Regions from separate parts of the Homo sapiens genome. Here all the other regions are linked to region 2. Evidence: fine-mapped expression QTL. A gene starts in region 2. Each other region holds a variant in brackets. All regions are shown on one strand. Distances are between the middles of the regions. Region 1 holds the start of PLOD1 (procollagen-lysine,2-oxoglutarate 5-dioxygenase 1). Region 2 holds the start of MFN2 (mitofusin 2). Region 3 overlaps MFN2 (mitofusin 2).

What was found. PIP is the estimated chance that this variant, and not a neighbour inherited with it, causes the effect.
Region 1: its variant is fine-mapped to the expression of MFN2 in whole blood (INTERVAL, PIP 0.96).
Region 3: its variant is fine-mapped to the expression of MFN2 in whole blood (INTERVAL, PIP above 0.99).

The regions. Positions count from the first base shown.
Region 1 is chr1:11,930,597-11,940,920 of GRCh38, forward strand. It overlaps PLOD1 (procollagen-lysine,2-oxoglutarate 5-dioxygenase 1), which reads left to right and starts at 4,121. Exons shown (of 19, transcript NM_000302.4): 1 at 4,121-4,259. The coding sequence starts at 4,184. RefSeq lists enhancers at 2,904-3,829, 3,660-3,709, 3,830-4,753, 8,172-9,371, 8,334-9,226 and a silencer at 3,930-4,399. The variant C/CTT (reference allele first, on the strand shown) is at 6,255.
Region 2 is chr1:11,974,361-11,984,684 of GRCh38, forward strand. MFN2 (mitofusin 2) reads left to right here and starts at 6,084. Exons shown (of 19, transcript NM_014874.4): 1 at 6,084-6,124; 2 at 7,610-7,754. It overlaps PLOD1 (procollagen-lysine,2-oxoglutarate 5-dioxygenase 1), which reads left to right. Exons shown (of 19, transcript NM_000302.4): 19 at 293-1,177. The coding sequence ends at 448. RefSeq lists silencers at 5,700-5,959, 6,130-6,369 and an enhancer at 7,826-7,925.
Region 3 is chr1:12,009,956-12,017,884 of GRCh38, forward strand. MFN2 (mitofusin 2) reads left to right here. Exons shown (of 19, transcript NM_014874.4): 19 at 1,541-3,553. The coding sequence ends at 1,610. Among named protein-coding and RNA genes, the nearest start is that of MIIP, 5.6 kb to the right of the region's middle. The variant C/A (reference allele first, on the strand shown) is at 3,773.

The DNA.
Region 1 (10,324 bases), 44 kb before region 2:
GTACATCACCATTGAGGTTCTCCTTGGACTACAGCAAATGGAGGGTTAGAGCTGGGTTCCAATGCTGCCTCCCTTACTGTAGTTCTGCATCAGTTGTGTGGCGTCGAGCAGATTGCTTCACTTCTCTGGGTCTGTTTTCTCATTTTGCAAATGGGGCAATACTGTTTAATTAGCAAGGCTGTTGCGAGCAGGGAATGAGGGAGAGTTTTGAAAACTGAACCAGGGGCCGGGAGCATTGGCTCACACGTGTAATCCCAGCACTTTGGGAGGCTGAGGAAGGCAGATGTCTTGAGCTCAGGAGTTTTAGACCAGCCTGGCCGACATTGTGAAACCCTGTCTCTACAAAAAAAAAAAAAAAAAAAAAAATTAGCCAGGCAAGGTGCATGCCTGTAGTCCCAGCTACTCAGGAGGCTGAGGTGGGAGAATCACCTGAGCCCAGGAAGTTGAGGCTGCAGTGGGCTGTAATCACACCACTGCACTCCAGCCTGGGCAGCAAAGTGAGACCCTGTCTCAAAAAAAAAGAGAACATGGAACCAGCCAACAAATGCTCATTCTCCTCCCTCTGCTCCTCCTGGCATTTCCTCTTCCTCCAGGGGTCTGGAGTCTGAGTCTGCATCCTCCTGAATCCAAAACATCCGGTGGATTCTGGCACCAAGTCCTGTCTCCAGATGCTGAAACTCCCAGCCCTGGATCCCAGCTGGGAGGTAGGGGCCCTGGATTCTGCTCAGGCCTCTTCCTTTTACTTGCCTTGGGACCTTGAGCTTGCTGCCCCATGCCTATGGATATCACTTGTGCTATCTGTGCAATGAGCACATCTCCATACAATGAGATGATTTCCACACAATGAGATGATTTCCAAGGTTCCCAGTGACTGACTCTATCTTTGTTTTTTTAATAGAGATGGGGGAAGGGTTTTGCTATAGTGTCCAGGCTGGTCTGGAACTCCTGGGCCCAAGCAGTCCTCCTGCCTTGGCCTCCCGAAGTGCTGGGATTACAGGCATGAGTCTCTGTGCCGGCCTGGACCTATATTCTAAAAATAGCATGTATTGATTTTGTTTGAATATATATATATATTTTTTCAAGACGGAGTTTTGCTCTTGTTGCCCAGGCTAGAGTGCAATGGTGCGATCTCGGCTCACTGCAATCTCCGCCTTCCAGGCTCAAGAAATTCTCCTGCCTCAGCCTCCCAAGTAGCTGGGATTACAGGAATGCGCCACCATGCCCAGATAATTTTGTATTTTTGGTAGAGACAGGGTTTCTCCATGTTGGTCAGGCTGGTCTTGAAATCCCGACGTCTGGTGATCTGCCTGCCTCCACCTCCCAAAGGGCTGGTATTACAGGCATAAGCCACCATGCCCCGCCGATTTTGTTTGAATTTTACAAATAGTATATATTTATTGAAAAAAAAAGAAAAATATAAATAACAAAATAAATACTTGGAAATAATATAAAACATCAAAAATTGTCTATATAAATATGAAATAATCCCACAACCTGGAAATAATCACAGTAAATATTTGGCCATAATTTTCTCCTAGCATTGTCTCTATGCATGTATACATCGATAAGAATATATTTTTGGCTGGGCGCGATGGCTCACGCCTATAATCCCAACACTTTGGGAGGCCGAGGCTGGTGGATCACGAGGTCAGGAGTTCAAGACCAGCCTGGCCAAGATGGTGAAACCTCATCTCTACTAAAAATACAAAAATGAGCCAGGCATGGTGGCAGGCACCTGTAATCCCAGCTACTCGGAAGGCTGAGGCAAAGAATTGCTTGAACCAGGGAGGCGGAGGTTGCAGTGAGCTGAGATTGTGCCACTGCACTCCAACCTGGGCTATACAGTGAGACTCCATCTCAAAAAAAAAAAAAAAGAAGGTATTTTTACTGAGTGGAACCATACTATATATTCTGCTTTTCCACTTAACATCATATGGGTAGTGTATTTCTCTGGCTGCAGCATCTGAATGCTATTTTGTTTTTATTTTTATTTTTTGGTTTGTTTGTTTTTTTTGAGGCAGGTTCTGACTCTCTTGCCCAGGCTGGAGTGCAGCGGTGTGATCATGGCTCACTGCAACCTCCACCTCCCGGGCTCAAGTGATCCTCCCCAGTCAGCCTCCTGAATAGCTGGGACTACAGGCACATGCCACCATGCCCAGCTAATTTTTGTTTTTTTAGTAAAGAAGGGGTTTCACCATGTTGCCCAGGCTGGTCTTGAATTCCTGGGCTCAAGCAATCTGGCTGTCTTGGCCTCCCAAAGTACTGGGATTACAGGCATGAACCACCGCACCCAGCTCATCTGAATGCTGTTGATTTATTAATATCTTTTCCCAGCACAGACGCATAGCCTGCTCTTTGTCGTCCATTGACATTCGTGACATTCCTTCTCTCCCACCCCTTTGCCCCCTGCAGGGAACCCCCTGCCAGCCTAGGGTTACACCTGCCACCCACTCCTCTGGAGCCTAATCAGCTGGGAGAAGGCTCCTGGGTCCCTGTCTAAGGTCTTTTTTTTCTTTTTTTTTTTTTTTGAGACAGAGTTTCGCTCTGTCGCCTAGGCTGGAGTGCAGTGGTTCAATCTTGGCTCACTGCAAACTCAGTCTCCTGGGTTCAAGTGATTCTACTGCCTCAGCCTCCTGAGTAGCTGGGATTACAGGCGCGCGCCACCACGCCTGGCTAATTTTTGTATTTTAGTAGAGACAGAGTTTCACCATGTTGGTCAAGCTGGTCTTGAACTCCTGACCTTGTGATCCGCTCGCCTCAGCCTCCCAAAGTGCTGGGATTACAGGTGTGAGCCACCGTGCCCGGCCTCTGTCTGAGGTTTCTTCCAAGGAAGGAAGGATTTTTGTTCAGAGGTGGCTGCCCCTGTCTGACATCTGGTCCAGGAGCCCTTACTCTAGAGACCGTTGAGTTGTTTGTTGGGCTTTGGGTATCTGTGAAGAGGCCCTAAAAACTTTCATCGATTCGTTTACTCATTTAACAATTAATCTCTCTAGGGTGTGGTGGCTCAGCCTGTAATCCCAGCACTTTGGGAGGCCAAGGCGGGTGGATCATCTGAGGGTGGGAGTTCAAGACCAGCCTGACCAACATGGAGAAACCCCACCTCTACTAAAAATACAAAATTAGCTGGGCATGGTGGCACATGCCTGTAATCCCAGCTACTCGGGAGGCTGAGGCAGGAGAATTGCTTGAACCCGGGAGGCGGAGGTTGCCGTGACCCCAGATCTCGCCGTTGCACTCCAGCCTGGGCAACAAGAGTGAAACTCTGTCTCAAAAAAAAGGTAGAAAAATTAGCCAGGGATGGTGGCTCAGGCCTGTGATCCCACCTACTTGGGAGGCTGAGATGGGAGGATCGCTTGAGCCCGGGAGGTCGAGGCTGCAGCAAGCGGTGATCACGCCACTGCACTCCAGCCTGGGCAACTGAAAGCAACCTTGTCTCAAAAAAATGAAAAAAAAAAAACAAAAAACAAAAAAACCTCAGAAGCAAGACTTTCCTTGGCTCAGAGGTTTGCCTCCCAGGGACACAAAGGGAGATCAAGTGATTGCCTTTTGGGGAGAGTGGAGACGGGCTTCCTGCATTTCCAGTGCCTGGGTGGGCCACGTAGGGGTGTCCGTGTCTCTGAACGCATCCGTGCCCACCCTCACCCCTTGGGTTTTGGGAAGGACTAATGAAATCATGAAAACTGACTTCCTTGGGGCTTGACCTGGGGCTGCTCTAAGTGCGCTACAGGTAACGCCATTAACCCGTGCAAGACCCAATGAACAGACGCTATCATAAGCCCCACTTTTCAGGCGAGCAAACAGGGGCTCGTGGCTATCGATGCCATGGAGCCTTGGCCCAGAACCTGGGGTCTAGAAATCGTGGCCTCTCTCTCCTCTCACCGCCCTCTTTCTGGTCGGAGTGAACCCCCCAGAGAAGGGAGGGAGACGGCAGGGCCTGACGGAAGCCCCGGGAGCTGCACAGAGAGGCGGAGGGAGCTGCCCTAATAAGGAGAGGCCCGGACTTGGGCATATCTGCAGAAAAACCCTTCCCCACTAGGCAGGCGCGGGGGAGGGCGTGGAGGGGCGGGGTGGTGCCGCCCCCGGGGCGGGCCCAGTGCGTGGCAGCGGGACCTGCGGCCCCGTCGCGAAGTTTCCAGCCCTGCGAGCGCCGCCGGGTCGGCCGATCGTCCCCCATACCTCGGCCATGCGGCCCCTGCTGCTACTGGCCCTGCTGGGCTGGCTGCTGCTGGCCGAAGCGAAGGGCGACGCCAAGCCGGAGGGTGAGGGAGCGAAGGCCGGGGGCGGGAGCGCGGATCCGGGCGGGAGGGCTGGTGTCGGGCTGCCTCCCTGGGAACGACCTGAATGGGAGGCCTGGGCTGGAGAGGGAGTCTGGGTTCCGGCTCCTTGTCCACTTAATCGCTGGTGACTTGAACAAATCACTTCCCCTCTTGGGGCTGCGGTTCCTGCTTCGGGAAGGAAAGGGTGACAGCTGAGTCCCATTCAGCACAGAAAGGCTCAAATAATAATAGTTTTCATAATAATAACCGACAATGGCTATTCTGCCCAGTGCTCACTATGGGCCAGGCATCAGTTAGGCATGATTGCTACCCTGGTAAGTGTTTCCTTCTATTATCCCCGTTTTCCAGCTGGGCAAACTGAGGCTCCAGAGTTCATTCACTTGCCCAAGATCATACAACTTGTGGGCCTTGGAACCAGGATTTACCCCACCCACCCAGGTGTCTGGTTCCAGAGCCAGGAGGCCTCATGACCATGGGAATGAGGGGTCTTGAGGGGGACAGGGGAGGAATGGGGGTAGAAGGTGTGGCTCACTTTGTGGATAAGTTTGTGCTTTCATCCATGTCCCCTGTGGTCTGCTTAGCCCCTGCCAGGGTGGTCTTCCTCTCTGCAGTTTATTTTTTTTATTTTACTTAATGTATTATTTATTTAGTTATTTATTTATTTTTGAGACAGAGTCTTGCTCTGTCGCCCAGGCTGGAACGCAGTATGCGATCTCGGCTTACTGCAACCTCTGCCTCCCAGGTAAAAGCAATTCTTTTTTTTTTTTTTGAGATGGAGTCTCGCTCTGTCGCCCAGGCTGGAATGCAGTGGCACAATCTCAGCTCACTGCAACCTCCACCTCCCAGGTTCAAGTGTTTCTCCTGCCTCGGCCTCCCAAGTAGCTGGGATTACAGGCACGTGCCACCATGCCTAGCTAATTTTTGTATTTTTAGTTGAGATGGGGTTTCACCATGCTGGCCAGGCTGGTCTTGAACTTCTGACCTCTTGATCCGCTGGCCTCAGCCTCCCAAAATGTTTGGATTACAGGCGTGAGCCATCGCGCCCGGCCGGTTCAAGCGACTCCTGTACCTCAGCCTCCCAGGTAGGTGGGATCACAGACATGTGCCACCATGCCCAGCTAATTTTTGTATTTTTGGTGGAGATGGGGTTTCACCATGTTGGCCAGGCTGGTCTTGAACTCTTGACCTCAGGTGATCAGCCCACCTTGGTCTCCCAAAGTGTTGGGATTACAGGCGTGAGCCACCACACCTGGCCCTCTCTGCAGTTTATACTTGAGGAAACTGAGGCCCAGACAGGTGAAGTGACTGTCCAGGGTGGTCCAGACAGAGGTGGTTGGTCCGAGGTCAGCTGGGCTCCAGTCTAGCGCTCTTTCTACTTCCTCAAGGCAGATTGGATTGCAGTGTGTGCCCCACTGTCCTGAGTGGGTGCTTCCCTCCTCCCCAGCCCTCCCTGGCATGGGCCATCTCCAGGGCTGTCCCGAGAAGGGCATAGACTGCGGACAGTCCCAGCAAAGCCAAGCAGAAGTGGCGGTACTTTCCATGGCATTCTCCTCCTTCAGCTTACCCTCCTGGAGAACCTGAAACTGTATCACCAGAAGGATCCCGGGTTCTTTGGGTCAGGAATGGGAACCACCATTTATTTTATTTTATTTATTTAATTTTTTTTTGAGACAGTGTTTCACTGTGTCCCCCAGGCTGGAGTGCAGTAGCATGACCTTGGCTCACTGCAACCTCTGTCTCCTGGGTTCAAGCAATTCTCGTGCGTCAGCCTCCCAAGTAGCTGGGATTACAGGCCTGCACCACCACGCCCAGCTAATTTTTGTATCTTTAGAAGAGACGAGGTTTCGCCATGTTGGCCAGGCTGGTTTCAAACTCCTGACCTCAAGTGATCCTCCTGCCTCGGCCTCCCAAAGTGCTGGGATTACAGGTGGGAGCCACTGCACCCAGCCAGGAACCACCATTTCTTTTCTTTTCTTT[C/CTT]TTTTTTTTTTTTTGAGGCAGAGTTTCACTCCCGTTGCCCAGGCTGGAGTCCAATGGTGCGATCTCAGCTCACTGCAACCTCCGCCTCCCAGGTTCAAGCGATTCTCCTGCCTCAATCTCCCTAGTGGCTGGGATTACAGGCGGATGCCACAACGCTCAGCTAATGTTTGTATTTTTAGTAGAGACGGGGTTTCACCATGTTGGTCAGGCTGGTTTCAAACTCTTGATCTCAGGTGATCCGCCTACCTCGGCCTCCCAAAGTACCGGGATTACAGGCGTGAGCCACCGCGCCCGGCCAGGAACTGCCATTTCTTGAGTACCTCCCTCGGACCAGGTTGTGCCCAAGGCCCCACGTCTCCCAGTGGTAAAGCCGGCGGTGCTTGCTCTCTGTGAGGCTTGGTGTTCTAGCCTGCAAGACCCGGTGATACTACCTCACGCCTGGAGCTCTAACAAGAATTCCAGGGGATGAAGTTGGGGAGAGTTCAGCTCAATGCCTGGCCCATGAAAGGCCCTCGGCAAAGGGCATTTTCTCTCCCAGTCCCAGGGCTGCTGGCTTACAGCAGGGCAGTAAGACAGCTCAGAAAGTCCAGTGATGGAAACGCTGACCACCGGGCTGTGCAAAGGGCTCTCGGCCTGGGTCCCCTCACTGGCCAGGAGCCCTGTTGTGGCCTAGTTTTCTGGGCCTTTGATCCCCCTGCTTCTGCTGACATGGGGTGCCTGCATCCCAGACCATCCCAGGAGAGAAACCGCAGCTGCCCATGATGAAGCCCGGTGAGTTGAATTGAAGAGGGACCAGACTGATGACAGGGCGTTAGGCACCCTGATCCCCAGCAAGTGACAGGAGGAGGGCAGAGCAGATCCAAGGAAGCCTTCACAGAGGGTGCTGCTATGGGCGGAGGACAGGATCAGTGTGCTACTGAGGTAACCCAGGTAGAGCACCTGGTAGGTAGAAAGCACATCTGTGCTCACTGATGCACAAGAGAGCAGATCCCCAGGCCTGGGGCTAATGTCAGGCCAGTCTGAGTTGGGCCCTTTGCTTCCCTTCTCCATTTGGATCCCTCCCTGTTTTCCATTTTTTTTTTTTTTTTTAAGTTTTCATTTTCTTTTTTTTTTTTTCTTTGAGACAGAGTCTCGCTTTGTCGCCCAGGCTGGAGTGCAGTGGCACGATCTCAGCGCACTGCAGCCTCCACCTCCAGGGTTCAAGCGATTCTCCTGTCTCAGCCTCCCAAGTAGCTGGGATCACAGGCATGCACCACCATGCCTGGCTAATTTTTGTATTTTTAGTAGAGACGGGGTTTTGCAATGTTAGCCAGGCTGGTCTCAATCCTGACCTCAAGCGATTTGCCCACCTTGGCTTCCCAAAGTGCTGGGATTACAGGCCTGAGCCACCACGCCCGGCCAGGATCCCTTTGCTAAGTAAGAAATCATCAACTCCATTTTGGAGATGGGAAGACTGAGGTCCTGGTAGGTTAAACATCTGGTCTCTCATTGCCAGAGCTGGTTGGAGGTGGGGTCATTGTCTGGAACTCAGACCTACTGTTCATTTCTGCACCTCTGGACGGGAAGGGGGTGCTGTTGCCTGGAAATGCTGCCTGGGGGAGCCTGCTCAGCTCCCCCAGACCCAGCTGAGGTGTGACCTTTAGCCAGCTGGACAGGAGGACAGAGTGGGTTGCTCATCTTCCCTGCAGGTCTTGCCTGAGCATCCCACTGACTAGTGTGTGTGTTTGGTGGGGGGTACCCCAGCAGCCCCCAAAGAGGCCAGCTCTTCCCTTTCCCTGGCAGATGGATGGGAGGAGGCAGCTACTGAGGTGGATTCAGCTGGAGTAGGGAAGGGGATTTGCTGTGGAGTCTCGGGGAGTGAGATGGGTGGGGTGCTGTCAGCAGCTTGTCTGTCCCCTCACCCAAAACGCATGGCCTTGGTGCATGGAGAGAAACATGGACCGTTTTCACTTTTGGGGGCTCCCAATGAGAGGGGGGTACAGAGCACCTCACTTCAGTAGACACCCCACGTCTGAGGGAAGAGATGTTGCGCCATCCTGGGGGGGCTTCCAGAACAAGATGGGAGACACAAGAAGGCTTCAACAAAGCAATATCTTCCATCACAGGGAACTGGGAGAATAAAAGGCAACATCCAAACAGGCAGATATCCCTAGAGCCGAGGTCAGATGTCCCACAGCCCTTCCTCCCGTTTGTAGAAACTTCTAGCAGATCTCCAGCTCCTGCCTTTCCCTGTGGGCCTTGATTTGGCCGTGGTGAGAGAAGGACAGCTGCAGAGATCAGAGGCTCAGCTGGCCGTTCAGGTCATGCTGTTCCCTACTAGAGAACAGAAGGGTCCCAGGAGTCAGTCAGGCTGCACTGGATGGTGTGGGGGTGGGGCCGGGTCTGGGGAGACCTAAGTGGGCAGCTGGCCCCGGGGAGGCTAAGGTTGGCTCCCACGTGCAGGGCATCCCAAGCTCCTGCCAGACCCTGTTCCTGGCTTCAGTTCAAGCCTGGGGTGGGGATGAAGGATGGGGGAGGGGAGAGGGCGGAAGGGCTTCATTCATTCCCGCCTCCCCAGGGAGCAGACTGGGTGTGTCATGACTGTGCCTTGACTCAGGCCACACAGTGACCACCCACGCCTTGGGCTGGGACTGCTTGGGGAGGAGGGGGCATCCGGTGGCACAGTCAAACCAGGGGTGCCCAGAGGTCCCATTCTTCCAGGAGCTCATCACATACGCACACCCCAACCAAGCCCTCACCGTCAGTCTCTCCACATCATTCTTTTTCTTTTTCTTTTTTTGAGATGGAGTCTCGCTCACCTAGTCTGGAGTGAAATGGCATGATCTCAGCTCACTGCAACCTCTGCCCCCTGGGTTCAAGCAGTTCTCCTGCCTCAGTCTCCCGAGTAGCTGGGATTACAGGCGCCCACCATCATGCCCAGCTAATTTTTGTATTTTTAGTAGAGATGGGGTTTCGCCATGTTGGCCAGGCTGGTCTCGAGCTCCTGACCTCATGTGATCCACCCGCCTTGGCCTCCCAAAGTGCTAGGATTACAGGTGTGAGCCACCGCACACATCATTCTTCTCTTAAAAGTTTTTCTAAATTTTATTTTTTTGTACAGACAGGGTCTCACTGTGTTGCCCCGGCTGGTCTTGAACCCTCAGGCTCAAGTGATCATCCCCACCTTGGCCCCCCAAAGACCGGGATTACAGGTGTGAGCCACTGCACCTGGCTAATTCCTGTGGCCCAGTAGCATGACTATAGCTCACTGCAGCCTTCACCTCCTGGGCTCAAGCAATCCTCCTGCCTCAGCTTCCTGAGTAGCTGGGCCTAGAGGTGCGTGCCACCATGTCTGGCTAATTTTTTAATTTTTTGTAGAGACAGGGTCTCACTTTGTTGCACAGGTTGGTCTTGAACTCAGGGCCTCAAATAAGCCTCCTGCCTTGGTCTCCCTAAGTGTTGACATTACAGGTGTGAGCCACCCCACCCTCTGCATCATTCTTGCTCTCAGGAAGGCAGCTCCCCTTTATTCCTGACCCCCAGGGCAGCATCTACCAAGACACAGCTCCCCTTTAGGGGAGGCACCCTGTCGCCAGAACCCCCCCGCAGCTACCAAGGCAGGCACTGTGCCAAGCGCTTTACGGCATTGGCTCATTGAATCCTCATGAAAGTCTCTGGAGGGAGGTACTATCATCTGTATTATTCCCATTTTACAGATGAGAAAACTGAGGCACGGAGAGGCTAAATTCCCTGCCCAGCAATCTGTCTTTAGCACCCTCTCTGTTGTATCTCATTGATTTCTGCTGATCCTGGATCACGGGTTCATCTGGGGAAGTCATTGCTGGACTTTGGGCAGTAGGTGGGGAGGGCTGAGAGCTCTGGGTGCCAGGCCTTGGCCTTAGCCCAAGGCAGCTGGCTGGACCAGACAGAAAGCAGATGGGAGGGGCCTTGGTACTCGAAAATGAATCTTCCACATCCATGCCTTAAGGGTTTCTCTGGCCTGGCCTAACAGTGAGCTGGGAAAAGACCTCACCACGTGACTGCAGTTGGGTGCTTGTGCTGCAGAGGCCAGAGAGAAGGCACTGGAAGCG
Region 2 (10,324 bases):
TTAGTAGAGATGGGGTCTCACCATGTTGGCCATGCTGGTCTTGAACTCCTGACCTCAGGTGGTCCACCCGCCTTGGCCTGCCAAAGTGCTGGGATTACAGGCGTGAGCCACCACTCCTGGCCACTACTCTTCATTTAGTGTCTTCCTTAGCAGCGCTTGTGGCTGTCACTCCAGAAGGCATCCCCAGGCAGGCAGTGCTGAGGGCCACTTGGCCATGACAGGAGATCATGACGGGAGAACAGACGGGCAGGGGGGCGGTGGGGAAAGGCCACTGATGCTTTCTGTCTCCCAGGGCGGGGGCTGTCGGTTCCTGCGCTACAACTGTTCCATCCGAGCCCCAAGGAAGGGCTGGACCCTCATGCACCCTGGACGACTCACGCATTACCATGAGGGGCTCCCCACCACCAGGGGCACCCGCTACATCGCAGTCTCCTTCGTCGATCCCTAATTGGCCAGGCCTGACCCTCTTGGACCTTTCTTCTTTGCCGACAACCACTGCCCAGCAGCCTCTGGGACCTCGGGGTCCCAGGGAACCCAGTCCAGCCTCCTGGCTGTTGACTTCCCATTGCTCTTGGAGCCACCAATCAAAGAGATTCAAAGAGATTCCTGCAGGCCAGAGGCGGAACACACCTTTATGGCTGGGGCTCTCCGTGGTGTTCTGGACCCAGCCCCTGGAGACACCATTCACTTTTACTGCTTTGTAGTGACTCGTGCTCTCCAACCTGTCTTCCTGAAAAACCAAGGCCCCCTTCCCCCACCTCTTCCATGGGGTGAGACTTGAGCAGAACAGGGGCTTCCCCAAGTTGCCCAGAAAGACTGTCTGGGTGAGAAGCCATGGCCAGAGCTTCTCCCAGGCACAGGTGTTGCACCAGGGACTTCTGCTTCAAGTTTTGGGGTAAAGACACCTGGATCAGACTCCAAGGGCTGCCCTGAGTCTGGGACTTCTGCCTCCATGGCTGGTCATGAGAGCAAACCGTAGTCCCCTGGAGACAGCGACTCCAGAGAACCTCTTGGGAGACAGAAGAGGCATCTGTGCACAGCTCGATCTTCTACTTGCCTGTGGGGAGGGGAGTGACAGGTCCACACACCACACTGGGTCACCCTGTCCTGGATGCCTCTGAAGAGAGGGACAGACCGTCAGAAACTGGAGAGTTTCTATTAAAGGTCATTTAAACCACTGAAGGGAAGATGCTCAGGGCGAGTGGGTGTGTGTGTGTCTTGGTGTGAGTGTCTGCAGGGAGAGAGGTTTTAAGAGCCCTCTTTTTTTTTTTTTTTCTTTTTTTGAGACAGAGTCTCACTCTGTCTTCCAGGCTGGAGTGCAATGACGCTATCCCCGCTTTCTGCAACCCCCGCCTCCTGGGTTCAAGTAATTCTCCTGCCTCAGCCTTCCGAGCAGCTGGGGCTACAGGCACCCATCACCACGCCTGGCTAATTTTTGTTTTTTTATTAAAGAAAGGGTTTCACCAGGTTGGTCTGGCTGGTCTTGAACTCCTGACCTCAGATGATCCACCCACCTCGGCCTCCCAAAGTGCTGGGATTACAGGCATGAGCCACCGTGCCCGGCCAAGAGCCCTCTTTTTAGAGCCTTTAAGAAAGGTCATGCTAGCCTCTCGACCCCTGAGTAGCTGGGATTATAGGTATCCATGCCTGACACATTTTTGTATTTTTTGTAGAAACGGGGTTTCATTTCACCGTGTTGGCCAGGCTGGTCTCGAACTCCTGACCTCAGGTGATCCATCCGCCTCGGCCTCCCAAAGTACTGGATTACAGGCGTGAGCCACCATCCCAGGCCTGAAAGTCTTTTAAAAAAGATTTTTGAGGCCAGGCACAGTGGCTCACACCTGTAATCCCAGCACTTAGGCTGAGGCAGGCGGATTACCTGAGGTCAGGAGTTTGAGACCAGCCTGGGCAACGTGGCGAAACCCTGTCTCTACTAATAATATGAAAAAATCAGCCGGTTGTGTTGGCATGCGCCTGTAATCCCAGCTACTCGGGAGGCTGAGGCAGGAGAATCGCTTGAACCCAGGTGGTGGAGGTTGCAATGAGCCAAGATTGGGCCACTGCACTCCAGTCTGGGTGACAGAGCAAGACTCCATCTCAATTAAAAAAAAAAAAAGATTTTTTAGTCTTTTCATTTTCAAAATTGACTCATTGTAAATTCAAACAGCACAAATCTTAATCTTTCTGTCATCCTTTCCCCCCAGCTGCTCAGTTCCTCTCTCTGAAAGCCACCATGTCTAATCTGTTTTTTGAACGTTCTTGAGCTGGTTTGTGCCGACACAAGCCTGTGTGTGTGTTTGTGTATGTTAGGGTTATTTTTGTTTTTGTTTTTGAGATGGAGTCTCACTCTGTCGCCCAGGCTGGAGTGCAATGGCATGATCTCGGCTCACTGCAACCTCTGCCTCCCGGGTTCAAGCAATTCTCGTGCCTCAGCTTCCCGAGTAGCTGGGATTACAGGCACCCGCCACCACGCCCAGCTAGTTTTTGTATTTTTAGTAGATATGAGGTTTCACCATGTTGGCCACGGTGGTCTCCAACTCCTGACCTCAGATGATCCACCTGCCTCGGCCTCCCAAAGTGCTGGCATTACAGGTGTGAGCCACTGTGCCCGGCATAGGGTTGTTTTTAACTGTTAACTTTTTTCTGATTACAAACTCATCTTCACCATGAAAAAGTCAAACAAAATAGGTAACATGGGGGGCCGGATGCTGTGGCTCACATCTGTAATCCCAGTACTTTGGGAGGCTGAGGCGGGTGGATCACTTGTGGTCAAGAGTTTGAGACCAGCCTGGCCAACATGGCAAAACCCCCATCTCTACAAAAAAATACAAAAATTAGCCAGGTGTGGTGGCAGGTGCCTGTAATCCCAGCTACTTGGGAGGCTGAGCTGGGAGAATCACTTGAACCTGGGAGGTGGAGGTTGCAGTGAGCCAAGATTGCACCACTACACTCCAGCGTGGGTGACAGAGCAATAACCTGTCAACAACAACAACAACAAAAAGTAATATGGACCGGGTGCAGTGGCTCATGCCTGTAATCCCAGCGCTTTGGGAGGCTGAGGTGGTAGGATCACTTGAGGCCAGGAATTCTCAACCAGCATGGCCAACATGGCAAAACCCTGTCTCTATTAAAAATACAAAAATAAGGTGGGCTTTATGGCACATGCCTGTAAACCCAACTACTCAGGAGGCTGCAGCACGAGAATCGCTTGAACCCGGGAGGCAGAGGTTGTAGTGAGTTGAGATTGTGCCACTGCACTCCAGCCTGGGTGAGAGAGCAAGACTCTTGTCTTAAAAAAAAAAACAAAAACGTAAGAAAGAAAGGTCTCCTGGAGTTGTACATCAGTGTGCTCTGCACCCATTCCCAATAACACTCAGCACTGCTAGGAGAGTTTTGTCATCCCGAGGGTTGAAACGAGGATTCAGCCATCTCAATGAGAAACACATGTTAATGGGTTGAAACATATCTCCAAACTGAGATTTCCTCTACTTGCTGGGCAAGTATGCAGATGTGTTTCAGAGATAAAGCCCAGCTGCTGGGCAGAGTACAAGACTAAATGCCTGGGAATGGATTCAGAGGTTCCTACAGCAGTCCAGGCAAGTGACCAGGACCTAGACCAATGCTTGCAGGGAAATTTAGGGAAGAGGAGGGAGTGGGCAGGGGAGATGTTTAGGAGAGAGAACATCCAGGCTTTCACCTGACGGGCAAGATTCTGCTAAAAAGGAAAAGGAAGGCTGGGCGTGGTGGCTCACACCTGTAATCCCAGCACTTTGGGAGGCTGAGGCGGGTGGATCACCTGAGGTCAGGAGTTTGAGACCAGCCTGGCCAACATGGTGAAACCCCATCTCTACTAAAAATACAAAAATTAGCCAGGCATGGTGGTGCACGCCTGTAATCCCAGCTAGTGGGGAGACTGAGGCGGGAGAATTGCCTGAGGCGGAGGTTGCGGTGAGCCAAGATGGTGCCACTGAGCTCCAGTCTGGGCAACAGAGTGAGAGCGAGACTCTTTCTCAAAAAAAAAGAAAAAAAAAAAAAAAGAGGAAATGGAATTTATAGTTCCTGCCCTCAGAGAATGGAAGTGGAATTTAGAGTTCCTCTCCTTAGGGAGTCCAGAGATTGTGGAGGAGGAAACAATCCGACCCAGTACCAGGCAGCTAGCAGCTGAGGCCCCAAGGCACGCTACATCCCAGACAGGGCCCTGTCTACACCCTGAGGCTGAGTCTGCGTGTGGCCCCACAGTCCACAGTCAGACCCGCGGGGCACTAGGCTACTCAGAGGGCAGTGTGGGCAGGACAGCTCCCTTTGGCCATCGTCATGAGACTGATAAACCAGTCACTTCTATATCAGAGTACTGATTTGCCTCTTGAGGTTGTTTGTGGCAATAAATTGAGGTTGTTCTACCATGGTTATAGAGCAGCACCATCCCACAGAATTACAGTTTGACCCACAAATGCAAGCTACTTATGTAATTTTAAATTTTCTAGTAGCGACATTTTTAAAAAGAAACAGGTGCAATTAATCTTAGTAATGTATTTAACCCAAATGACCCAAAATATTATCACTTCAACATGTAGTCAGCATATAAATAGTAATGGGCTAATAGCCCTGCACTGTGGCAGGTACCTGTAACCCGGCATTTTGGGAAGCCGAGGCAGGAGAAGATTGCTTGACTCCAGGAGTCCAGGAGTTCAGGACACCAGCCTGGGTAACAAAGTGAAATGCTTCCCCATGTCTACAAAAGATAAATACTAGGCATGGCTGCAGCATCTGTGGTCAGCTACTTGGGAGGCTGAGTGAGGTGGGAGGATTACTTGAGCCCAGGAGTTCGAGGCTGCAGTGAGCCGTGATTGCACCACTGCACTCCAGCTTGAGTGAGAGTGAGACTCTGGCTCAAAGATAGATTTTTTTTTTCTTTTTTGAGACGGAGTCTCTGTTGCCCAGGCTGGAGTGCAGTGGCATGATCTCGGCTCACTGCAACCTCCACCGCCCGTGTTCAAGCGATTCTCCTGCCTCTTCCTCCCGAGTGCACTATCATGCCTGGCTAATTTTTGTATTTTTAGTACAGACGGGGTTTCACCATGTTGGCCAGGCTGGTCTTGAACTCCCGATGCACCCGCCTCGCCCTCCTAAAATGCTGGAATTACAGGCTTGAGCCACCGCGCCCGGTCGATATTTTTTTTTCCTAAAAATTGAGATAGTTTAACAGCCTTTTTTGTCCTAAGTCTTATAGCGCATCTCCGTTTGCACTGGCTCAGGACTCGAGAGCCACACGTGGCTAGTGCCTACTGTTCTGGCGCGCTCAGGCTTGGAGCCTTCTCTGCGGAGGCCAAGTCCTGCAAGGGATCTGTTTGCTGCGGTTTCCTAGTAGTGTCTGCCGCATCACTGGGGCCCGGTGATCTGGGTAACCATGTGAGCTTGGGTAACCTCTCCTCTCCCTCTCCTGGGACTGCTGTGGACGTTAAATACAGCGGTGGATGTTAGAGACGCAGTTCAGTCACTGGCATTGATTCGCCGTTGTTGCTGCTCTTCTTTCCTCAAAGGCGACTGAAGGGCAGCAGGCCCATGCTCGCTTCTGTCTGCCCGATGAGTCACTTCACCCTAGGCCTGGCCCTCTAGAGAACACTCCTCTAAGATTACAGAATGCAAATCTGGATTCCAGAGCTGGCAGAGGCCCCAGGGTCAGGCTCTAGGACAACCGGCGAAAAAGCGGGAACCTCTACTCCACGCCCTTGGTTTTTCGCCCCTTGACAGCTTGAGGCTCCGCCCCGCTTTGCCCCGCCCCCCCAGCTCCGGCCGACGCCCACCGGAACTACAGCCCCCATGATGCAGTGGGAGTCCGAGCCTCTGCGTCGTCCGCTTGGGACGCGCCGGCGGAGGAGTGGCGCGCGGAGGAGTGGCGCGCTGAGACGCCGCTCGAAGCGCCGAGTCGCGGGGCAGCAGAGGCGTAAGGAGTAGGCGGGGCGAGCCGGCTGGGCTCAGGGTCCACCAGCTCACCCGGGTCGAGGGGCAATCTGAGGCGACTGGTGACGCGCTTATCCACTTCCCTCCTCCCGCCTCCCCCTGGGGTGGCGCTCGCTGGTGACGTAGTGAGTGTGATGGCCGCCGCGAGGCCGGGAAGGTGAAGGTGAGAGGGCGAGCAAGCCGGGGTGGCGGGGACTGGCCCGGCCCGGCCCGGCGAGTCCTGAGCAGCTCGGCGTGGGCCGACGGGATTCTGGGGCCACGGGGGTCTGGGATGCAGTCAAGCGGGGTCCCCACTCTCCGGCCTCGCCGCCGGGCCCTCCCCGGCCCTGAGAGGAGGGGGCGGGCCACGGGACCTGGGACTGGTCGGTGGGGTCCCCTGTAGCTTCTCATCGCCCCCGCCTTTCCACCCTTCACGGCCATGTTCTACCCCTGCCCCTTCTCTATTTTTCATCCTGTCTTCATTTTGCCAGCATTTACTCAGCACCTGATAGGTGTCCACGTTCACCGCGGGAGCGCCCTGCCATCCCCACTTTGGGCAGTTACTGCCTTCTCGTTCAGCCCTGTTTACTTATATGACTTCTCACCGGACTGTAAGGCCCTGGAGGGCAGGACTGTTTCTTATCCATTTCTAACGTGGCGCCTGACACACACAGAGAAGGCACACAGAAAATGTTGAATAAATAGCTGTTAAGACGCACGAAGGCAGAACTGCCCGTTACCCCCTCTCGTAATCCTTCATTGCCCTCTTTAAATTCTCAATCATCTCTCTCTCTTCTACCCAGAAAAGGGCTCTGGTTATCTCTTTTCTACCCAGAAAAGGGCTCTGGTTATCCGCCTCTGGTGTCCCAAGGTTTGGGGCTTGGGGGAGGAAGGCAGCTCAATGTAGTTAAAAAAGGAAGGAGGCCGGTCGCAGTGGATCACACCTGTAATCCCAGCACTTTGGGAGGCTGAGGCGGGCGGATCACCTGAGGTCAGGAGTTGGAGACCAGCCTGGCCAACATGGTGAAACCCCGTCTGTGCTAAAACCAAAAACTAGCCGGGCTTGCTGGCACACGCCTGTAATCCCATCTACTCAGGAGGCTGAGGCAGGAGAATCGCTTGAACCCGGGAGGCGGAGGTTGAGCCGAGATCGCGCTGCTGCACTCCAGGAGCTTTGGAGTCAAAGGGAGCTAATATTTCAGATCCCAGCTTAGACAAATCTTCAAGTATTCCAGCCCTCTGTCCCACAGAATAGAGAATTAAGTGAGATACTTTACAGTAGCTGAACACATTGGCTTTCAGTCAGTTCTTCTGTTCCTCAATAGTCAGCTGTTCCACAGTCCTCAAGCCCAGTTTTGTTCCTAGTTTTGCTCTGTCCTCTTCTCCCCTCTCTGGATGTACCTTTCCCAGGGCTCCTGCAGGGACCTCCGTGGTGCCTCAAACCCGCACATGGCGGAATACGTGTGCACAGTCAGGATTGGTCCCACACCTCTGCGTTTTTTTCCCCAGGGCACTTCCTCACATGCCAGCGCAACTCCCCAATACCTCAATGAGTAAGCTTCCCTCAGGGATGAGTTTGTTTGGCTTGAAACCTGATTAGACATGTTTTGTACACCAGTGTTTTTTTTTTTTGGACACCGGATCCATCTCCCTTTTCTTTTCTAATAAGTCAGGACTGGTGGAGTCAACACAGTCAATCAATAGCCAACCTCAACCTGAGACAGGACAGAAGAGAACTCAGAATCTTTTTGTCTTTTGGACTTCAGCCATGTCCATGATGCCTACCCTGTGAAGATCTCTCACCATCCAAAAAAGTAAGTAGTAGCTGTGACTTCTGGCACCCTGGATTTGAGCTGAGTGGACAGGGGTGTGCTCTCCTGGACCTCTGGTGGCAAGTCTCTTGAATGGCATCCTCTTTGTATAGAGCCACAGCTTTCTAACTTGTGTTGAAAAACTACCGTATCTTTTACTTCCGTGAAGGATTTCGCTGGTTGCTTAGAGAGCCTGTTTAAAAGTTGACAGTTCAGAAGTGGCTGGGATCTCTTGGGCTCCCTGAAGAGTTAGTCTCTGTCTCCCTCATTTGGTCTCTGCTGTGCTGGCTCTTCCCCATCTCGGCCCAGCACAGGTTGGCTCCTTGTCACTGCTCTTTTAAGACTCTGCTCTGTCCCCTTTACCCTGTATACTCTTTTTGTTTCGATTTCTCAGCTTCTCCTCTTTTCCAGTTGTGCCAGCAGACGATCCGTGGATCCATTTTATTTTCCCTGCTAGGAGTTGCTGTACATAACACTGGGTAAGGAGGTGGTGTGGATTCAGGGACTGTGCTTGGGATCCAAACACACCTTGCAGTGAATTTTGCTACTGCTGTCTCTACACCCAAGATACCTAATACTCCTCAACGAATAGCCTAGGTTGAGGCAAAGCTGTTGACCACCTTGGAGGGCTAATAGCAGTTTCCATTTAGAACTGGGTTCATTTCTGGTCTTAGGTTAATATTTATTAATACTGTGCCCTGGCACTTTTTAGGGGTAGGGGCAGGAGAGTACCAGAAAGAGTGGGCTTTTCCCTAAAGTGTGATCCTCGGGATTTTAAAAGCTATTACACAGAAGGGTTTTTTCATTGATTATATTTGTGAAATGCTGAATTCAACACAGTTAAACTAGTGTCTTTACAACAAGGCTTCCTTCCCAAACTCTTTTGCTGTGCTCACGTGCTCCACTGAGGAAAATGGTAGCATATGGTGTTTTTTGTTTGTTTGTTTGTTTTTTGTTTTTTTTGAGACAGAGTCTTGCTCTGTCACCCAGGCTGGAGTGCAGTGGCGCGATCTTGCAGTGGCGTGATCTTGGCTCACTGCAAGCTCTGCCTCCCAGGTTCACACTATCCTCCTGCCTCAGCCTCCCGAGTAGCTGTACTACAGGTGCATGCTGCCATGCCTGGCTAATTTTTTGTAGTTTTAGTAGAGATGGGGTTTCACCGTGTTAGCCAGGATGGTCTCGAACTCCTGACCTTGTGATCTACCCACCTCGGCCTCCCAGAGTGCTGGGATTACAGGCGTGAGCCACCGCGCCTGGCCTAGCATATGGTGTTTTACAAACTGATTCTACTATTGAACCTTCTTTACATGGGATATTGGGTGCAAGTCGAGTTCTGTGGACCACGCTTTGGGAAGTGCTGCCAGAAACTATCCAAAACAGTAATCTCCAGAGCACTTATGAGGCAGTCACAGCTTGAAGTGTGACGCTTAGTGTGTCACTGATGTTGGAGCTGGGCTCTCAGGCTATGCTTGCAGGATGGTCCCCACGTGCCTGTGGCAAGGTCTGTGGTGAAGCAGAGATTATCAAGGCTTTCCAGAGGCAGAGGAGGAACCCAGCTGCCCTGCATCACCCTGGAGGAGTAGGGAGTCAGCAGTCAAAGCCTTGAGATAATTGGGGAACACAGGATGTGATAAAAACCAGAAGTCTGTGATGTTGTTTGTTCTCTATGAGGCATCAGAGGAGGCTTCATGGAGCGGGTGACACTTGAGTTGGGTCTAGAAGGACAGTAGGAGTATGCCAAATGGGTGGAAAAGGAAGGAGGATTCCAGGCAGAAAGCAGCTCATGCAACACAGATGTGGAATCTCAGCTTGCAAGTTAGCAGAGCCAGATAAATCAGGCAGAGTTTGGAGGGGTTGACAGTAGGTTTTACGCCAGGGGTTTGGATGCAGCTGCAGGCTGGGTATTAGTGAGAGCAGGGAGGCTCCTGGACCGGCTGAACTCCCAGCAGACCTTGTAACCTGGAGCTCCCAAGCTTCTACTGGTGTACACGCTGTCGAGTCTTGCAGTTAGTGAGCACTAATGCTTTTGGTTTTATATCTCCTGGGCTTGCAAACATTGACCAGAACTTAAAAGCACCTGCTTCTGATGGCAGGGAACTTGCTTCCTGCAGCAAGTCACTTCTGGAGTGGGGTATCGCTGATCCTTCCCCAGCTGACCTGTTTATTTGATCTCCGTGATAGCGGGTAAGGGAGTGGTGTGTGTGGTGTGAGTTGGCGGAGTTGCCTCTGCCCTCCCTGAAGGCTGGGTGTTCATGGAGAGAGTCTTGTGATCTTGCTGGTAGAGTTTGTTGTTATTGTTTTATAACATGTAAAGCTGCCTTTAGCTCTTACTGTAGTGAAGCATGTTGCTTGCGTCATCAACTTTAGTCTTCTCACAGTTTAGATGGTATTGTGGTATTAGGATATTGGTTTTCATCCACGGATCCAGGCTCATAACTCCTATCCACAGCCCTTGTTATGGTTTTTTGATATAATGTTAGATGTGTTAGGCCTCAGGGGCAGGCCTCTGACCTTCTGCTCTCCTTCCACCCTAATCTTTCCCCACCTGATTGTGGGCCTTAAAACCCTCCCCT
Region 3 (7,929 bases), 34 kb after region 2:
CTAGCCTGACCAACATGGTGAAACCCCGTCTCTACTAAAAATACAAAGATTAGCTGGTCGTGGTGGTGTGTGCTTGTAATCCCAGCCACTCGACAGGCTGAGGCAGGAGAATGGCTTGAACCCAGAAGGCGGAGGTTGCAGTGAGCCGAGATTATGCCATTGCACTCCAGCCTGGGCGACAAGAGCAAAACTCTGTCTCAAAAAGAAAAAAAAAATGGATGTGTACCACGTACCTCATGGATGCCAGATGGTGCTGGAGGCTCAACAAGACACAGCGTCGCTGCCTTCAAGGCACTTGCAGTTGAAGGCATGATGGCATCACAGTACTGCGAGACTGCAGTTCACAGCGCCCTGTGCTGAACCGCAGGGCCTACAGCGCTTAACATGTGCTATTTCACTCAGTCTTCCCTATTTCTCCATTTTCTACATAGAAATGTTGGGGAACTTGTCTGGCATCTCAAAAAATGGCCAGGCTAGGAGGGGAGCCCAGGTGTACTTGGCTCCAGCAGCCCCCGCACTCTGATTCTCCTTACCTGCCACTCTTTGGACCCATGAAGAGGGCATAGCCCCCCATTTACCCACAGAGAAGCTGGTTACTTGGCTGGGGACTGGCAGAGCTGGGATTGGAACTCAGATCTCCATGGGGTCTCTGTGGAGCTTTCATTAATAATTTGCTGGAAAGAACATCAGTCTGAGGAGTCTGGAGTCCTGGGTTCTCTCCAGCCACTCATGTTTGGCCCAAGCTCTTAACTCTCCTGTGTCTCATTATTTTCATCTGTAAAATGGGAGTAAGATTTCATGACACAGCTGCATGACTGAATGTAAAAGTGCCCTGCAAAAGTCCTCGGCCTGCCCAGCTCATGATAACATCAGCACACGGGGACCCTGCAGAAGTCCTCGGCCTGCCTAGCCCATGATAGCATCAGCACACGGGGACCCTGCACTTCCTGCCCTCGCCCCTGACGTCAGAGTCTGCAGGGTGGCAGAGCCAGAGGGGAGATGGATCAGAGGGTGTCAGCTCCAACCCTCACCGGATCACTGGGCTTTCCCTGCCCTCGACTGCGGATGTGCCCCCCCCGCACCCCCACCTGGGGACAGCTGCTTCCTAGGGACACACTGCTTGCCCTCTGGGGACTCTCAGAAAGGGGGAATGGGGGGAACTGCTGCTTGTCAGCCACAGTGACACAGCTGAACCTGGAAAGGGTCTCCTGTCAGCACCTCAACCCCTTGCTTGGCAAGCAGGGAAACTGAGTTCCCGACAGCTCAGGGACTTGCACATGGTCCTGGGTGAAGGAAACACAGGGCTTGAGAATCAGAAAAGCCTAACTTGTAGCTCCCTGGCTTATTAGCCGTGTGGCCTTGGGAAGTTATTTAACCCCTCTGGGCCTCCTTTTCCCCATCTGTGAGACAGGGATAAACACGATTGTTGGAGGATGATGTAAGGGTGTGTGTCAAGCGTCCTTAGGATGGTGCCTGGCGGGTAGTCCTAATACTGCCTATCATCAGCTATCATGGTTACAAAAGAACCATTTCTTTGCAGGAATAAAGCCGGTTGGTTGGACAGTGAGCTCAACATGTTCACACACCAGTACCTGCAGCCCAGCAGATAGTGGGCACCTGAGGCGGAGTCTGCGTGGAGAGGGGCGGTGCTGCCAGCCCTAAGTGCCATGTGGGCTCCCCCAGGGGCACGTGTGGCTCCTGCCCCCTGGCCACTGCCAAGAGAATGAAGCACCCAGTCTCGTACCATTTTGAGCCCTCCAGCACTACTTATTTTCCCCCACCTTTGCCTGCTGTTGCTGGAAGAGCTGGCTCATACCCCCAAAGGACACTTTCAGCGACAGCTATGGACAGCATGGTACCAAGGAGTTAAGTTGAGGCTTTTTCCAGCTTTCTCTGGTTCATTTGATTGCTTGATAAGGCCTCAGGATCTCAGCATTGCACAATGCCTCATGGAAGCCTTTGAGGGTATCACACAGACACCCCCACCTTCCTCCAGCCTGTGCGCACCTGCCCTCCTTGCAGCCCAGCACACCTGCAGGTGTAAGGGACGATTGGAGTTTCTTCCCAGAGAGTCTGTCCCAGAAGGACTGTGGCTTGTGTGTGTCCATCTCGCCTGTTGGCTCAGTGCTTCATCCCATTTGCAGAGCCTCAGACACGTCTTGGTGGTGAGGCTCAGTTACCCCTGGGCTTAGGCTGAGGCGGGCCCTGTGCTGGGGGTGGTAGAAAGGATGCTGCTGAGGCAGCTGGAGGAGTGGGAGTAGCTCAGAGGGGAGGGCTGTTGGATGTATGGGGAGCTGGCAGAGCAGGTGGCAGTCACTGGGACAAGGAGGGACTTGCCTCTCTTCTCATTATTGTGTCCTTTGCTTTAGTGTCAGTCCTGGACTTGTGCAGGCCTGTTTTGTGTAGATCTGTTTTGGAAGATGGCATGGTCTAGGTGGTTGAAGGATGTAGTAGAAGGATGGATGGTGGAAGGTGGGGACGTTGGTGGCTGGCTGAGGTGCATGGGCCCCACACAGGACAGCTGGAGAATGGGCCGTCCACTTGGCCTCGTTCTGCGAGGGGCTCATGGGTCTGAGAGCCCCCACCCACTAGGCTTGATTGCATCCCTGTTGTGCCCTTTAAGAGACATGTTTCCACCCCACCCCCAACCTTGTCCCAAGTGCCCTGGACTAAATTTCCTGTGCCAGTGACTGCAGTTGGCCAAGGGACAATGTGGAAAACCCAGTGTCCATCTTTCCACCCTCCCTGATCTCCAGAACCTTCGACTGACCCCCTTGTCTTTATGCTGATGTTGAGTTTTGGGATTGTTACTGGTTGAAGTGGGGGCAGATGCCTGTCACCAAGGTGTTGACTGTGTGAGAAAAGCAGTTTGGGTGACAAATCCTGTGTGGCACAAGTTGGATCGCTTCCTAGAAATAAGCAACACCTCTCCCAAAAAGCAGCCCACAAGGCAGGGGCCCAGCAGCCCAGCCATCACTCATCTTTGAGGAAATGAGTTGGTAGCCTCTGTGCACTGTTTGGTGGCCACATCACAGGTGATGTCCTGTTCACATACCTGCTTGTATTTAAAGCCCTCAGTCTGTCCTGTTGTGTGGGGCGAAGTGATGGACTCTGCCAGGTGGACATGCTGTGGGTGGATGTTCCCGGCGTGTGCCGGGCCTGAATGGACAGGGGCCACTTCACAGCATGTCAGGGAAAATCACTGTCACACAATTCCAATGGATTTTGTGCTCTTTTTGAAAAAAAAAAATTCTTTAGCGTAAACATGAATTTTTTTTCAATGTAGCCCCTGGGGAATGAATGAAATTTTGAGCTTCTTCAATACGTAAAATTAAATTTATACCACTGAGGGAGAGACCCTTTCTGAAAGAAGTATGGCCAAAAGCACTTTAATGCTGCTGACATTGTTGTTTTTATGTTCATTTGCTGGAGCGCAAGACGTGCTGACACAGTGAGTTTTCTCTGATGTATTTAAGGTGATGTATTTGCTTGAGTTACTCCTGTATCATTGCTCATAATATTGGAAACTAAAATAAAACCTAGTTGGAAATCCTTTGTGAGATCTGTCTTTTTGGGTTCTTGTACAAACTCCTCTTTGACATGGCCAGCTGTATTCTGAAGTGACCATAACTTTGGGGAAGTTCCCACTATAATCTGGCTCCTTATTCTTGGAAGGAATTTGATACTCTCAAAAGAACAGATGGTTTAACTGATCTTTAAGGATCAGGAAATCGAGACTGATTTCTTTACAGATTTCTCTGTAACTCCAGAC[C/A]ATTTTTCACTTAAAAAGTAAATGACTCACTGTTCCATCCTGCTTTGCCTTCTGAGAATTTGGTTGCCACTATTCTTTTTTTTTTTTTTCTTTTTTGAGATGGAGTCACGCTCTGTCGCCCAGGCTGGAGTGCAGTGGCACGATCTCGGCTCGCTGCAAGCTCCGCCTCCCGGGTTCAAGCAGTTCTCTGCCTCAGCCTCCCAAGCAGCTGGGATTACAGGCGCCGACCACCAGGCCTGGCTAATTTTGGTATTTTAGTAGAGACAGGGTTTCATCATCTTGGCCATACTGGTCTCAAACTCCTGACCTTGTGACCCACCTGCCTCGGTCTCCCAAAGTGCTGGCATTACAGGTGTGAGCCACCGCTTTTTTTTCTTTTTTTTTTTAAGGGTCCTCAGGAGTAGATACAGGGGTAGTCAGTCAGTTTCCCCGCCCCTACAGCTGTCCTCTTGGCTCTGGTGCTGCCCAGTGTCCGCCCTGCTCGCCCACAGAGGCCACAGCTCAGCTGATAGCAACCTCATCCTTCCAGATTCCCAGGCTACACACTTGGGGCATCACCCTCGAGTCCACGGTCACACGTGCTGCACCAAATCTGTCACCTGCTGTCTTCCAAGTCTGTTGACCCTGCCCAGTTTCCTCACCTCCATCATAACCATCAGCCCGGATCTAGGTTCCTGTTCCTGCCTTGTCCCCGCCTATCCTCGCCATCTTGTGGCTGTTTCAAGGCAGCAGCCAAAGACTTTCTCAGGTAACAAAAAAAAAATGAATCATTACCTTTTTTTTTTTTGCAATCCACAAAACAAGTAGTTTCTGTCATTAACAAGATGTTATGTACAACCCACTAAATTGTTCACGACAGCATCATCCCGGGTGATGAGCCATAGTTTGAAAAAGGGCCTTCTTGCCTTATGCAAATGCTGCTTAGTTATTCCCAGTCAAGGCCAGCCTCATTCCTGTGCTTTCTCTGACTACCTCATCTGTCCACTGGCGAATCTGAGAGGCTGGAAGTTTTAGCCCTCTGGTAACAATGTCCCTATTTAATCACAAAAAGTAGGTAGTCAGGAATGTTCCACTGTGTCCCAAGCACTGGGGTGACAGCCCAGGCAGCTCTCTCGGAGAGCATCTGGCTTCATAATGTGGCCTCAGAAGCAGGGCCCTCCTCGCAGATGTCAGCTAAGTTGTTCACCGTGTCCTCAAGTGGATGGTTTCCTGTGTCTAAGTGGGACTCTTAGGCTTGAGATAAGAACAGCGAACTTTGAGAGTTTAGTATGTCAGACATTTCATACGCATGAGCCCTAATCTCAAAATCCAATGGTCTATTTTCCCTAATTTCCTCAAATGAGGAAGTTCATTAATTCAGCAAAATATTTGTGCACTTACTATGTGCTAAGCATGGTTCTAAGCACTGGAGATATAGCAGTGACTAAGGTGGATAAAAATCTGCCCCTGGGGCCAGACGCGATGGCTCACGCCTGTAATCCCAACACTTTTGGGAGGTGGGCGGATCACGAGGTCAGGAGTTCAAGACCAGCCTGGCCAACATGGTGAAACCCCATCTCTACTAGAAATACAAAAATTAGCCAGGCTTGGTGGCGTGCACCTGTAATCCCAGATACTAGGGTGGCTGAGGCAGGAGAATTGCTTAAACCTGGGAGGTGGGGGTTGCAATGAGCCGAGATCACGCCATTGCGCTCCAGCCTGGCAACAGAGGGAGGCTCCCTCTCAAAACAACAACAACAACAACAAAAATCTCACTCACTGATTAGTAACCTTTTTCAGTTACAAAGAAAAACAACATACTCGCTAAACTCCCTAACATCAGGAGCCATCAGGCAAATTATCTCAAGTCTTGATTTACAAACCAAACCCTTATGCCTCTGATTACACAGGGGACCGGTCTGACAAACTTTTTTTTTTTTTTTGAGGTAGGTTTTTGTTGGCTGGAGTGCAGTGGCGCAATCACGGCTCACTGCAGACTTGACCTCCCAGACTCAAGTGATCCTCTCACCTTAGCCTCCCGAATAGCTGGGATTAAAAGTGTGCGCCACCATGCCCGGATAATTTTTTGTTTTTTTGTAGAGACGAGGGATCTCACTATGTTACTCAGGCTGGTTTCGAACTCCTGATCTCAAATGATCCTCACACCTTGGCCTCCCAAAGTGCTGGGATTATAGGTGTGAGCCACCATGTCTGGACACAAATATTCTTTTTCTTTTTTTAATTTAATTTTTCAAATAGAGAATGTATGTTGGCTGGGCACAGTGCCTCATGCCTGTAATCCCAGCACTTTGGGAGGCTGAGGTGAGAGGATCGCTTGAATTCATGAGTTTGAGACCAGCCTGGGCAATCTGGCAAAACCCTGTCTCTACAAAAAATACAAAAATTAGCCCAGCATGGTGGTGTGCACTGGTAGTCCCAGCTATTCCGGGGGCTGAGGTAGGAGAATCACTTGAACCCAGGAGGTGGAGGCTGCAGTGAGCCGAGATTGCATCACTGCACTCCAACCTAGGCAACAGAATGAGACCCCGTCTCAAAAAAAAAAAAAAAAAATAGATGGGATCTTACTGTGTTGCCCAGGCTGGCCTCTAATTCCCAAGCTCAAGTGATCCTCCTGCCCCAGCCTCCCAGAGTGCCGGAACTACAGGCATGAGCCATCACACCCAGCCAATAAACATTCTTTTCTGATAAGCAACTGCAGAACTTAAGCCAGTTTCAGCCAGCTTACAGAAGCTGTGAACAACCTGTTTAGCCAATGCACATGAGCTCACCTCCTCTCATAAATATGTATACAGCTTTTCCCTCAAACCTGCTAAATATGTATGAATATGGGCCCTGTGAGGCATAAAACCCAACCTGTCCTTTCTCTCTTGGAAGAGAGCACCTTCAGTGCATGCTGCAAACCATCTCTTCCTGGTTTGCAAACAAGTATCAACAATAAAGTGCTCCTTTCTACTATTTAGCCACCCTGGTGATCTTCTAGACAACATTATGCGTATTTCTGCTAGGAACATTAGTGTTCAAATCTCTGTGTAGGCAGATGTTTTCATTTTTTGTAGGTAGATATCTCAGGCTGGACTTGCTGGGCCATATGGTAAATTTATGTTTAACTTCTACAGATTTTGTGAAGTGGTTATACTGTCTTATATCCCCACCAGTAGTGAATGTGGGTTCATATATATATATAGTTTTTTTTTTTTTTTTTTTTGAGACAGTCTTACTCTGTCACCCAGGCTGGAGTGCCGTGGCACAATCGCGGCTCACTGCAACCTCCGCCTCCCAGGTTCAAGCCATTCTCCTGCCTCAGCCTCTCGAGTAGCTGGGATTACAGGTGCCCACCACCACACCCGGCTAATTTTTTTCTATTTTTAATAGAGACGGGGTTTCACCATGTTAGCCAGGCTGGTTTCAAATTCCTGACCTCAACTGATCCGCCCGCCTTGGCCTCCCAAAGTGCTGGGATTACAGGCCTGAGACGTCGTGCCCGGCCTCATTTCATTTTTTAGAGCATCACAAACTACCTCTCCAGCTCATCTTGCTAGAGTTACTGCATAATCCATGCATTCCTGCCAAGGATCAGCCATCTTCTTGAGTCGGAGGGCTTCCTGCTAGCTCGGTGCCTGGTGTTATCACCCTCGGCTCTTCTGGAGGTAGAGGGGCTACCTATCTTCTTTTCATTCTTTTTTTTTTTTTTTTTTAATTTGAGACAGAGTTTCACTCTTGTTGCCCAGGCTGGAGTGCAATGGTGCGATTTTGGCTCACCACGACCTCCGCCTCCCGGGTTCAAGCGATTCTCCTGCCTCAGCCTCCCGAGCAGCTGGGATTACAGGTATGCGCCACCATGCCCGGCTAATTTTGTATTTTTAGTAGAGACGGGGTTTCTCCATGTTGGTCAGGCTGGTCTGGAACTCCCGACCTCAGGTGATCCGCCTGCCTGGACCTCCCAAAGTGCTGGGATTACAGACGTAAGCCACCGCGCCCAGCCAATTTTTGTATTTTTAGTAGAGACGGGGTTTCGCCATGTTGCCCAAGCTGATCTTGAACTCCTGACCTCAGGTGATCCACCCGCCTCGGCCTCCCAAAGTGCTGGGATTACAGGCGTGGGCCACTGCGCCCGGCCCCAGTTTTTCTAAGTTATATAGTTTAGGTTTCACAACTAG